Regions from separate parts of the Homo sapiens genome. Here all the other regions are reported to be linked to region 3. Evidence: microRNA targets listed by miRTarBase, many of them from high-throughput screens and not tested one by one. Region 3 holds a microRNA gene; each other region holds the end of a gene's coding sequence. Distances are from middle to middle.
The links. The annotated mature microRNA hsa-miR-548az-3p reads AAAAACUGCAAUCACUUUUGC and lies in region 3 at 1,349-1,369, opposite strand. An mRNA with a match to its seed (bases 2 to 7 or 8) in the 3' UTR can be bound and repressed. Matches are read on the target gene's strand: a 7mer-m8 pairs with bases 2 to 8, a 7mer-A1 pairs with bases 2 to 7 and ends in A, and an 8mer does both.

Region 1 (3,000 bases), not on the chromosome of region 3:
TATATGGTAGGACATTACAGCTGGAGATAATTTAAGTGCCATATTCTGCAAGAATGACCTTATTCTAACAACCCAAGTTGCCCATCTGCTAGGCCTATTTATTCTTCTAGCAATGGCAATAGATTGCATGAAGCCTATTTTGTTTAGCAGTATTATTTGTCACTAATAGTGCAAGGTGCATGTGTTAACTGTATAGTGATATATGTGTAATATACATGTGTGAATATATATTCAGCTGAATCCTAAGGTTTTATGACTAAATAAGGGACACAATGGCATTTGTTTTTGTCACAAAGCTTATATCATGTTCTAAAAAACCTTCTAAGATTTTGGGGAAGTTATTTGTAGAAGTGAGTTAGGCAGGGTTCCATCTGACACATGTATTTAAATTTGAAACTAAGCATTCTCCTCATGTGGAAGAAAACTTCTGTAATATTGCCCTTCCCAGGACTCTCCTCCTAGTCTAAAACCAAGCATACACAGAGTAGTGTGTCACGATACAGACACCAGGCTGGGAATAAGGAAACTTGGTTTCTTATACAAGTATTGTTACTATCTAGCTATGTAGAGTTTTCCAGGGTTGTTTCAGTTCTTAAAGTTACTTCAAGTATTATAAAAACAGTCACTGGTATAAGCATTGGATTAAGACTTTTTAAAAATTGGTAAAATATTTAAGTACAAAATAAGTAGCTTCCAGCGAGGTTTTTATACCATAGTAAGAGCACACAATAGATATTACTAGCACACATGGGTTATCTGGGAGCGCTATAGCTACAATAAACCTAATTATGGAACAGAAATTTGCATTCTGTTTCCAGTGCTACTACACTCCTACTTTCTCAAAAGTCTGCTCTATTAATATCAGCTCAGTGCAGTTTACTATGAATAGTTTATGTCTGTGATGCAAAGCATTAATTGTTCTCTTTTTACAAACATACATTTTTTTCATAAGGAAGACTGGGGGAAAACCCAGAAACATACAGAGAAAAGGAAAGCATCATCAAATATATGTTAAAAATTAAGATGATGTTTACTACTAGTCATCCTACAACAATTTAAAGTTTTCCTCAATTTATATTCATTTGATTTTACAGCAAAGATAAGCATACATGATTTTTATTTCCATTAAAAACTTAACTACTAATAATTACCCTCAACAAAGGAGTACTGAGTTAGAAAAATAATAGAATATGAACTAAAATGTTTTAAAAGCAGATGTAATAGAGATGAAAATTTGTCTTAATTATATTTGGTCACTTCTGTTGCTTAGTGGGAGAAGCCATGGCTGCCACCCAGTGGCAACATAAGTCTTTAAATGATTTTAAGATTTAAATAATATTTAAAACATTGATAAAAAAAATTCACAAGTTACACAACTTCAATTTTACCATCAGTAATTCTGGCGTATTAGATATCTATTTATAACAGCAAAGAATTAAAACATCCATATGCTTAGGCAGCATTAGGGAATTTGTTGAAAGTATCATACGACATCCTACTCAGTTATGTGGCTTTAGTATTTTTCAATTAAAATACTGATGGCTACTTTACTTAAATTTAAATCTCCAGAATAATAGGGGGACAAATTATGACCATAAAATACAACTGGTTTTCTTCTATAGCCTACAGAAGCAGATTGGCCTCTTATCCATACACCCAAATTCCTACTTGGTTAAAAAACAAATTAAAAAATTAAAAATAATATAATTTTCCCTAACCATGAGCACATTCTATTTTTTCCTCAGGTATACATCAGTTTTAGTGTCCCAATCAACAAAACTTAAAGCTGAAAAGAGGAAATGAAAATAGGTAATACCATTCCTGACAATTACTGATATTTAGTGAGGAGAAAAAAACAAGTATCTCACTGCTTCCTGTTTTTGCAAAACTTGGCCATAACTTATTTCCCACTGGCATAAATATAACATGTCCTAATACAAGATGCTCTAGAGGTAAAATAATACAAGTGGGATTAAAAAAATAAATAACACTAGAGCATCTATTTACAGTTTGAAAAGCTAAATATCTCAGAGACTGTTTTGTTTTCTTGAATAACCAGATGAGGGAGAAGCACTGGAAAAAAATTAAGTGATTTTTATTTCCAACAGTTGTAAATTAAAATTGTACAACATGTTTTCTAATCTATGTCTCATGTGTCTTGCTGTATGACTGAAGACAATGAATGTATTTTTAAAAATTATGGCAGACACAATATACTTGGTATTTACAATGGCCTGTGACAAATATAATACCTGGAAATAATTTCTAATTTTCCACTTATTATTGCTATTTAGTCACAGAAAAGATTAACACTCTCCAAGAAATTTTAGCATATGTCATATATAGATATAATAATTTTATATAATGAAAAACCATAACAGAACAGGGTGCCTTTACAAGGAAACAAAGGAAAGGCAATAAAGGATTTCTTCCATATAAAGATTCTGATATGCATTATTTGATTTTTGTTTACAAAATACAAAACTGTAATATTAGAAGCAAAGGGAAAACAGCAAAGAAAAAAACAATAAAACAGAAGGCCAAGGATAAGGAACTGTTCTATGCAGATGCACTGCATACATAGTATATATGTATGGGCTGAGTTATAATAAAAATACTTATTGTCAATTCTCATATAGATTTAGAAACAACAATTTCCAATCAAGCACGACTGGACCCAACATTTTCTCAGTCTTCAATTACATGACAAATTACAGCTACACAGCAGTCACTTCTGGTCAGCAGTATCATGATAAATGCTTGACAAGATATAATTTTTCTCCTTGTTCACTTGTAAAAATTGGTGCCTTTTTGTAATGTTCTACAAGTTCTTCCATGGTGCTGAATTTACGCTGCCCAATGCAGTAGACAGTCTCTTTTAGTTGGACTTTAAAATGCTTGTTTTTCCCTTGTGCTTTTAGTGATACTGAGAAATCATTTGGCTAAAAGAGAAAAAAAAGATACATATAGTAAACATTTTGAAAGCCCTCTATCAGTATT
Region 2 (3,246 bases), 14 Mb from region 3:
AGCTGGATGGCTGCAGGGATCAAGTCTTCTCTGGGGCTGGCACGTAGAAGAGCATGTGGCTGGTGGACGGGCATGCCTGGCTCCTCACCTGGCAGTCTCCTGCCCTCTAACCGGCTGTCTCTTGTTCCCCTAGTGCCCTCGGCTAGCATGACCCGCCTGATGCGGTCCCGCACAGCCTCTGGTTCCAGCGTCACTTCTCTGGATGGCACCCGCAGCCGCTCCCACACCAGCGAGGGCACCCGAAGCCGCTCCCACACCAGCGAGGGCACCCGCAGCCGCTCGCACACCAGCGAGGGGGCCCACCTGGACATCACCCCCAACTCGGGTGCTGCTGGGAACAGCGCCGGGCCCAAGTCCATGGAGGTCTCCTGCTAGGCGGCCTGCCCAGCTGCCGCCCCCGGACTCTGATCTCTGTAGTGGCCCCCTCCTCCCCGGCCCCTTTTCGCCCCCTGCCTGCCATACTGCGCCTAACTCGGTATTAATCCAAAGCTTATTTTGTAAGAGTGAGCTCTGGTGGAGACAAATGAGGTCTATTACGTGGGTGCCCTCTCCAAAGGCGGGGTGGCGGTGGACCAAAGGAAGGAAGCAAGCATCTCCGCATCGCATCCTCTTCCATTAACCAGTGGCCGGTTGCCACTCTCCTCCCCTCCCTCAGAGACACCAAACTGCCAAAAACAAGACGCGTAGCAGCACACACTTCACAAAGCCAAGCCTAGGCCGCCCTGAGCATCCTGGTTCAAACGGGTGCCTGGTCAGAAGGCCAGCCGCCCACTTCCCGTTTCCTCTTTAACTGAGGAGAAGCTGATCCAGTTTCCGGAAACAAAATCCTTTTCTCATTTGGGGAGGGGGGTAATAGTGACATGCAGGCACCTCTTTTAAACAGGCAAAACAGGAAGGGGGAAAAGGTGGGATTCATGTCGAGGCTAGAGGCATTTGGAACAACAAATCTACGTAGTTAACTTGAAGAAACCGATTTTTAAAGTTGGTGCATCTAGAAAGCTTTGAATGCAGAAGCAAACAAGCTTGATTTTTCTAGCATCCTCTTAATGTGCAGCAAAAGCAGGCGACAAAATCTCCTGGCTTTACAGACAAAAATATTTCAGCAAACGTTGGGCATCATGGTTTTTGAAGGCTTTAGTTCTGCTTTCTGCCTCTCCTCCACAGCCCCAACCTCCCACCCCTGATACATGAGCCAGTGATTATTCTTGTTCAGGGAGAAGATCATTTAGATTTGTTTTGCATTCCTTAGAATGGAGGGCAACATTCCACAGCTGCCCTGGCTGTGATGAGTGTCCTTGCAGGGGCCGGAGTAGGAGCACTGGGGTGGGGGTGGAATTGGGGTTACTCGATGTAAGGGATTCCTTGTTGTTGTGTTGAGATCCAGTGCAGTTGTGATTTCTGTGGATCCCAGCTTGGTTCCAGGAATTTTGTGTGATTGGCTTAAATCCAGTTTTCAATCTTCGACAGCTGGGCTGGAACGTGAACTCAGTAGCTGAACCTGTCTGACCCGGTCACGTTCTTGGATCCTCAGAACTCTTTGCTCTTGTCGGGGTGGGGGTGGGAACTCACGTGGGGAGCGGTGGCTGAGAAAATGTAAGGATTCTGGAATACATATTCCATGGGACTTTCCTTCCCTCTCCTGCTTCCTCTTTTCCTGCTCCCTAACCTTTCGCCGAATGGGGCAGCACCACTGACGTTTCTGGGCGGCCAGTGCGGCTGCCAGGTTCCTGTACTACTGCCTTGTACTTTTCATTTTGGCTCACCGTGGATTTTCTCATAGGAAGTTTGGTCAGAGTGAATTGAATATTGTAAGTCAGCCACTGGGACCCGAGGATTTCTGGGACCCCGCAGTTGGGAGGAGGAAGTAGTCCAGCCTTCCAGGTGGCGTGAGAGGCAATGACTCGTTACCTGCCGCCCATCACCTTGGAGGCCTTCCCTGGCCTTGAGTAGAAAAGTCGGGGATCGGGGCAAGAGAGGCTGAGTACGGATGGGAAACTATTGTGCACAAGTCTTTCCAGAGGAGTTTCTTAATGAGATATTTGTATTTATTTCCAGACCAATAAATTTGTAACTTTGCAGCGGCTTGTGTCTTTTTTCTGTCCCTGAGAGATTGTGTGTGTGAAACATTGCAGTGCAGGGATGGCTGTTTCACTGGGGGGTTGCCCGTCCTTGACACCTAGGGGACCCCAGCCCCTCATCTCTGGAATTCTTTCCTCGGAGCATCACGTCCAGCAGAAATTTAAGTCAGCTCATATGTTAATTCTAATTTCCCAGTGGCCACATTTTCAAAAGTGGAAAGAAACAGATGAAATTAATTTTAATAATACATTTCATTTATCTCAAGACGTCTAAAATATTACCACTTCTATAAAAACTATTGACCAGGTATTTTGCATTCTTTTTTCATTCTAGGAACTCTAGTGTGTTTCACACTCGCAATGCATTCAGACCAGCTGCATTTCAATTGCCCAGTAGCTTGGGCAGCACAATGATGAGGATAAAAAACTTTCCAACCTATAATTCGAGGAAAACAGCTTTTTTATTTTTAATATTTATTTTTATTTTTTGAAACGTAGTCTCACTTTGTCACCCAGGCTCAAGTGCAGTGGCACAATCTTCGCTAATTGCAACCTCCGCCTCCCAGGTTCAAGCAGTTCTCGTGCCTTAGCCTGCTGAGTAGCTGGGATTACAGGCATGCGCCACCATGCCCAGATAATTTATTTTTATTTTTATTTTTAGTAGAGATGGGGTTTTTGCCATGGCCAGGCTGGTCTCGAACTCCTGACCTCAAGTGATCCGTCCACCTAGGCCTCCCAGAGTGCTGGGATTACAGGCATGAGTCACCGTACCCAGGCTACATTTTGTTTGGATTACAAACAAATGTATGTGGAAAGATCATTCCTTTTCTCATGCCCAGTGACAACCATTGTAATGCTTGTTTTCTACTCTACATTAAAAAAAAGAGATTTTAGTGTAACCTCTTATTTAAACTAAGATTAGTTTAAAATATACAGACAGTTGCAAACAATACAGAGAGTTGCCATATAGCCTGTACTTAGTGACCCCTGTCACTAATATCTGACGTTACTGCATACTTGTCACAACCGGGAGATCAGTTGGACGTTGCTGTTAACTAAGCCCTGGACCATATTGAGAATTCACTGGGGTTCCCCTAATGTCCTCTCTCTGTCCAGGATCCCATCTGGGACACCCCATTACATTTTGTCATCATGTCTCAGCTTCCTC
Region 3 (3,246 bases):
TCTTTGCTCTCTCTCCTGTACCTATAACCACACCATAAGGCATTTTTATAATCCCAAATTCCTTATTCTTTTGGCATGCATCGTGTCATGAATTCAGAGGGATTTGTTTCTTGCTACACTAATCTTCACAGAAAACCTTCCTTGAGTAGAATTAACTAGCACATCAGCTAGGCATATGGACTTTTTCTGGGCTTCCTTTTATTTTTCCCCCAGATGATTTTCATTAACACATTTCAGGCTACTGTAGATTGCTTAATATGTTAATTAAACACATTAACTTTCTTGTCAAGAATCTTGCTTTTTGATTACTTACTGTTGTGCAAGCATGCTACATTGCAGACCCTTCTAAAAAAGCCCATGAAACACTGTTGGGTAGGGTCCACGAAATTACACATTTTAGCTGAATGTCTAGCCAAGGGTTAAAGTCAATATTCAGCCTAAGTTGAAGTTGAAGATGAATATCACTTCATGGCATGAACTTCTGGGAAAAAAGAATAAATATTAAAATTTCCACATTTTATTTTAATTTTGTCATTAAAAATGCTCAAAGTCAAAGTGTATAATTTGACATTACTGTACAACACAATGATTTCCCAGCCTTCTCAGTGGAGGTCAATACACTAAACCTGTGTAATCCCAATACAGTAGACTCTCACTTTCAATTTAGATCAAAGGAGGAGCAAGCTATTCTGTTTTGAGCTCTGCCATTGTAAATATTGATGGTGAAATGGACCCTAAGATAAGATTTTCTGGGAAGAATTGCAACATATAAAGCATATATGGATATTAATTTTTACTCCAAGTCAATTTTGAATATATTTGAAAGTGAATGTTTAGGTAGTAATACTACACTTTGAATGATATGCAATCCTTCTAACTAATATTTTTATGGTGATAATAATTTTGGTTGTCTCATCCTTGATCATCAGCAAGTTTAGAGTTCCGGAGATGATAAGTAAGTCTTTCACTATTCTTCCAAAGAGCAAGCTTGAATCCCAAAACAAATTTTGTAAAATTTCCACGTCAAATCAAATTCTGGTACATTTGTGTTGTGGGTAATTTCTTATTGCATAGTATCCATACTCTCAACACCTTCAATATCATTTACTTTGTTGATCAGCATATGCAGTACCAAAGGAACTTAAAGTTGCCAAAGCACACAGGCCGAGTCTGTCTTCCATATTCTTATTATTGGTTAGTTGTTTTATATGAATGATTATAAGATGGCAGTTTTGATAGACCAGTCCCATGCTACACCACTGAAAGTGCTCTTGCCAGAGTCACCAATAATTTCTTTAACTGATCCTCAACTGACTTGATCTCTGTGCAGCAAATTTATTAGGTTGGTGCAAAAGTGATTGCAGTTTTTGCCATTAAAAGTAACAGCAAAAACCACAATCACTTTTGCACCAACCTAATACAATCTTGAATATTCCCTACTTTGTGAAATATTTTTCCCTATTATTATTACATTTTTTAAACTTTCTCTAATTACTCTGCTTTTTCCCAGTTTGTTTTGAATTTCCCTGCTTTCTGCTAATCTCTTGTATATGAATTTTCTTCCAGATTCTAGCCTAGATAGAATTTTTATTTTTTTGCTTCACGTAGCCTCTCTTTGAGGATTATATTTTTCATACTCACAAATTCAATTATATAATTTCAATCATGATTCTCAAATCTATATCTTCAGCCAAGATATTTCTCCAGAGCTTCAGATCTAATTTGTTAGTCACCTAGTAGATATCACCACATAAAATCCTATAAATATCCCCCTTTAGTGTCCTTTTTATCAGTGAAATTACCACCATCTACCTAATTATAAAAGCCAAATACCCAATAATTTTCCATGACTTGCCCTTTTCTCATTTACTTTTTATATGTAATCAGTTATCAAGCCTTGTGTTTCTATTTGATAAAATGGCTCTCCTTTTATTTTTTGCTTACCTTCATCTTTTGTTATTATCATAGTTCAGGCAATCATCTTTTGTCTTTAGTCTCAAAACACCTTCCTTTCTGGTCTTCCGTATTTTGAATTCATTACTTCCAAAAATGTTTCTATTGGAGCCAGAGGGATGGTTCCAAAAATCCAGTCAGATCATAGCATTATCCTGATTAAATATCATCCCCCATTACATTTAGAATAATACTTTGGGGGTTATTTATAAACTGCCTTCATTTAGCCACTCAATCCCATCTTTTTTCCTTCTCTCTTGTTTTCTCTGCTCCAAACATTCTGAAATTTTCTTTCTTTCTCTGAATAAATCATGATTATTCTTACCTCTAGGCCTTTGCACAAATAAAAGTTTTGATGAAGAAGTTTCAAGTTAATGGTTTGTGAATGTAAGACAATTCTATTTTTTTTTTCAATAACTGTTGCCAGGTTTGCTTTGTTGAATTCCTTCCCTGCTGGGCAACAAGAAACAGTGATATCTCAGTTTGACAAATAACTTTTTATTTACTTCTGATTAAAAATAGTCTTAATTTGGGGTAGTAAAACTTTCCTTTTTTAAAAGCTTGTGCAGGGCTTCTGTATAGTATACGTATTGAACAGGGTTTATGTGTCGATATGGATAGGGTTGGATGTGTTGTTGGCTTTCTCCCTCTCTTTATCTTTTTCCCAGTGCCTGTTGTATTGATGATGATGTAAAGGGGTGTGTGCATGTTGTGGGTGGGGGGGTGTGAATGTGTGTACGTGTGTGCATGTGTGGATGTCTATGTAGTATGAAGGGGGAGATGGTAGAGGAGTGGGATGTCTTTGCTTATGCTGTATTAGTGATAGTGAGGTGTTATGGTTGAATCACCTAATACACACTGTTTCCTTATGTCTGGTGTTGTTACTTGGTCTACACTGAGAGAAGTCAGATGCCAGGTTTAGAGTTATAATAAGATTGATCTGATTTTTGGAAATATCCTTCTGGCTAAGTTGAAACCCATTAGGAGTAATCAATTAGAAATATAGGCAGTCTTCTAAGGCTGACAAAAACAATAAATTGGGGAAGGACTCCGTATTCAATAAATGGTGCTAGGATAACTGTCTAATCATATGCAGAAGAATGAAACTGGACCCTTTCATCATATACACAAATCAGCTACAAATGGGTTAAAGATTTTAATGTAAGACCTCAAACTATAAAAATCCCAGAAGAAAACCTAGGGAATACCCTCTTGACATCAGCCTTGGCAAAGAATTTATGGCCAAGTCCCCAAAAGCAATTGCAGCAAAAACAAAAATTGTTAAGTGGGACC
Region 4 (3,246 bases), not on the chromosome of region 3:
GGCAGGGCTGCAGGTCAAGGGAGCTCAACAGGGCCCATGACCTGCGGTCTTACAGCCAAAACCGTGCACTCTGGAAGGTGCATGCTGTTGGCATCCAGAGGGCCGAGTGAGCAGCCCGGGGGTGTCCAGGTTAGGGTGGGTCCCCAGGGAGAGGGAGAGAAGAGAAAGAGCCCTGTAACTCCTGACTCCCAAGTGTGCCCCGGCCCCACCTAGCCACCCCGCCTGCCTACCTGTCAGTGCCCCCTAAGTGACTCGACTGGGAATAAGGGCAGGTTTGTTGTCCTGGTTCAACATTTGCTGTGTAACTATTGTTTTCTGGTCTTTAACCCAGACTGCAACACAGCTTCCTGGAGGTCAGGGGACAGCTCTTACACTGGACTCCAGTAGAGGACGTCAGTCACAGTGTTGGTTTTGGAGTCATGTGGTCCAGTGGTAGACCAGGAATCAGGAGACTCTGGGCTTTCCATCTCACTCCAACCGTATTTTCAAGTGATGAGCCTCTTGCCTTCTGTGAGCTTCCTGCAAGTGGGCTTAGCTTACATACTTTGCATCATCTGAAGGCACGACAAGAGAACATTGAAGAAAGAAGTCATAGGATCCTGTTTATTGTAGACAGGGGTCCGCGCACAAAAATCAGGATTTGGAGACAGAGGGAGCACTCAGGAGGCATGGTTTGGGGAAACTGAGTCAGGAGTTAATGACATATATTGAATCTTTTTGGTCTCCTGAAAACTCTTATGCTGTGTATGTAAGTCACCTCCTCTAGGCTGTCCCCCAGGCTTGCAGGGCCTGCTGGCAAATGGTCCTATGTGAGACTGCTTGCCAGGTGGCTGATGCTGTGCAGGAGGGGAGGGAATTTGGAGATGGCCAGTGTCTTTGCCTGCCGAGGGAGTGGAGACTACTGAAAGCCCGTAATAGGACAGTGGGGCACAAGGCATGCATTTTAACAAAGTTTATCCTGGTGGCCTCTTTCAGGGGTCCAAGGAGCTGCCCAAAGGCCCCCAAGGGGCGGGGAAATGGAGACCAGGTGGCTTGCACTTTGGACTCCCTCCCCAGCTTCAGGTGGGCTGCCTTGGGCTCTGTCTCCTTTAGACATGGGACTCTGAGTCAAGTACATGTCAAGAACGTGTTCCGCAGTGAAAAGGAGAAACAAGTTTGAACGCCACTGATTTAAACTAATACAGCAGATAGCATTTAATTCCAGTAAGTGGTTTTTCCCCTTCGGTGGTTTTGATATTCTAACAAGCCAACGTGTCTGGAGCTAAGACTCTCAGCTCCTTAATGGGGAAGGAAATCCTGGCAATTTCTCAGCCCCGCTGGACGCTCCTAGCTTGACCTCAGTTTCCTCACCTGTAAAATTGGGGTGATCTCAGCTTCACCTTCCATATGAAGCCATTGTAAGGAGCAGAGGAAGTGAGGAAAAGAGGCAAGTTTTCCAGTTGAGGAGACTGGAGGGGTGGAGTGTGACATAAGAACAAGCCTGCCCGCTGGGGTGTGGTAGGGGTGAAGCCAATTTCACAGCCTGGGCCCAAGAAAGAAACTACAACTTGAAGATAATAGTATTTACACAGATTGAATCTGTGATATAAAGTTTATGGTTCGTTTGGACTGTTCTGGAATATCCAATAAACACTGGGAGTAGAGGAGAGCAGGTGAGGGTTCAAGGCAGAGCTGGGGACCAAACCACCCACCTCTCTTCTCGGGCAGCCCATGGTGTTGGCATGATGTCCGGGATACAGAAGGCGCTCAATTAATGCTTGCTCAACCCAGATCCTGTCCCCTTTTCCTTCTCACTTGTCTTCCTCTGCTCCCCCGCGGGGATGACAGTTGAGAAAACTGTTGCTTTGAAGAGTTAAAAGGCAAAATCCTATGAAACTGTCCACAATGTAATTTTTGTGGAAGCCTGAGACCCCTCCAGATCCAAACTGTCAAAAAGCATGCATTAAACCCTCCCAGTCCTGCCACATAAGCCTCACCATCTAAAGGTTTGTAGAATTGTTAAAGGATGCCAACTAGTGGCTTCAGCAAATTCAGAAAACCCCAACCATGGTTCCCTGCCTCATTCCTCCCCATCTGCTCCCTCCTTCTCCCTGGGACCAGGCAATGCACCCCCTCTTCAAGTGTGATTCTGAACGTCCCCACCTTCTTGGGGAGGGGGCAGGATTTAAATCACAAGATATTTAATCAGAGTTCTCTCCTCTTGGTAGCTCAAATAAGAAAAACCAAGCAAAGCAAATCCATCTTTTCTATAAAACTTCATTTTGTAATTTTTTTCCAAGAAGTAGTAAGGGGGAAATATTGCAATTATGTAAAGGTAAGGAACAATGGTGTATAAAAATAATTTAAGCACAATATTAATAACAAAGCAACTTTTTTTCAAGGAAAACTAGTAGGTCATCTTGCCCAAGATTTTTCCAAAGGTATTAAATATATTTTCAATAACAGTACATACAAATACACATACACAAATATACCACACAGACACATGTGCACATACATGCACACACACACACACACACACACACACACACACACATATATATATACAGCTCAAGTATTTTTTTGGTGTGCATTCTAGCTAATCCACATAGCTAAAGTGAAAAAACACTGAAAAGATCAATGCCTGAGTAACCTTAAATTTGAACAAACTATGCATTGGATGTGAATTTTTGGAGGCATGCTAAGATTTCCCTTCTCAATTTCATTAGCTACTACCCAGTGTTCTGTGGTTCTTATCCTTAAAAAAATCAAAGTGTGCCTTTCAGATCTGCTCACGGTGTGGTGATGATTATTATGGTGGCGTCAATTTGGGAACACTTGCCCTCTCTTGCTCCTACTGCACCTTATGGATGGGAAAGGGAATGATTTTAAAGGTAAAGCACTCAGGCCCTGATTACATCTGGCTTATTCTTTGCTTCAAGGCAAGGATCTCTCTCTCGATTTCACAGGGGAGGTCGGCATTGACTTGATCCTCCAGATACTTCTCGATGTCTTCCACCTCCTTCTCCCAGAATTCCTTGGAGATGCTGAAAAGCTCCATCATGTTGATGTGCCCCAGGCCTTTCAGGTTCAGGGCATCCTCCTTGGGGATGTAGCCTATGGGCGTGAGCTTGGTGCTGGCTTTTCCATCGATCCGGTTGAACATCCACTCCAGCACCCTGGAGTTCTCTCCAAAGCCTGGCCAGAGGAATTTGCCTTCCTTGTCCTTCCGGAACCAGTTGACATGGAAGATCTTGGGCAGTTTGG

Region 1: miRTarBase lists NCK1 as a target of hsa-miR-548az-3p. Seed matches in the 3' UTR shown: 7mer-m8 at 2,481-2,487.
Region 2: the mRNA of NDRG1 is a reported target of hsa-miR-548az-3p. Seed matches in the 3' UTR shown: 7mer-m8 at 1,448-1,454.
Region 4: the mRNA of PCK1 is a reported target of hsa-miR-548az-3p. Seed matches in the 3' UTR shown: 7mer-A1 at 2,250-2,256 and 7mer-m8 at 1,833-1,839.

The regions. Positions count from the first base shown.
Region 1 is chr3:136,948,201-136,951,200 of GRCh38, reverse strand. NCK1 (NCK adaptor protein 1) reads right to left here. Exons shown (of 4, transcript NM_001291999.2): 4 at 1-2,942. The coding sequence ends at 2,748. The region is part of intron 3 of IL20RB-AS1 (IL20RB antisense RNA 1); the gene reads left to right. Among named protein-coding and RNA genes, the nearest start is that of IL20RB, 8.3 kb to the left of the region's middle.
Region 2 is chr8:133,236,007-133,239,252 of GRCh38, reverse strand. NDRG1 (N-myc downstream regulated 1) reads left to right here. Exons shown (of 16, transcript NM_006096.4): 16 at 134-2,078. The coding sequence ends at 375. Among named protein-coding and RNA genes, the nearest start is that of CCN4, 47 kb to the right of the region's middle.
Region 3 is chr8:119,323,351-119,326,596 of GRCh38, reverse strand. MIR548AZ (microRNA 548az) reads right to left here and starts at 1,426; the gene lies at 1,332-1,426.
Region 4 is chr20:57,565,452-57,568,697 of GRCh38, reverse strand. It overlaps PCK1 (phosphoenolpyruvate carboxykinase 1), which reads right to left. Exons shown (of 10, transcript NM_002591.4): 10 at 577-3,246. The coding sequence ends at 2,894. Among named protein-coding and RNA genes, the nearest start is that of PCK1, 6.0 kb to the right of the region's middle. RefSeq lists an enhancer at 1-11.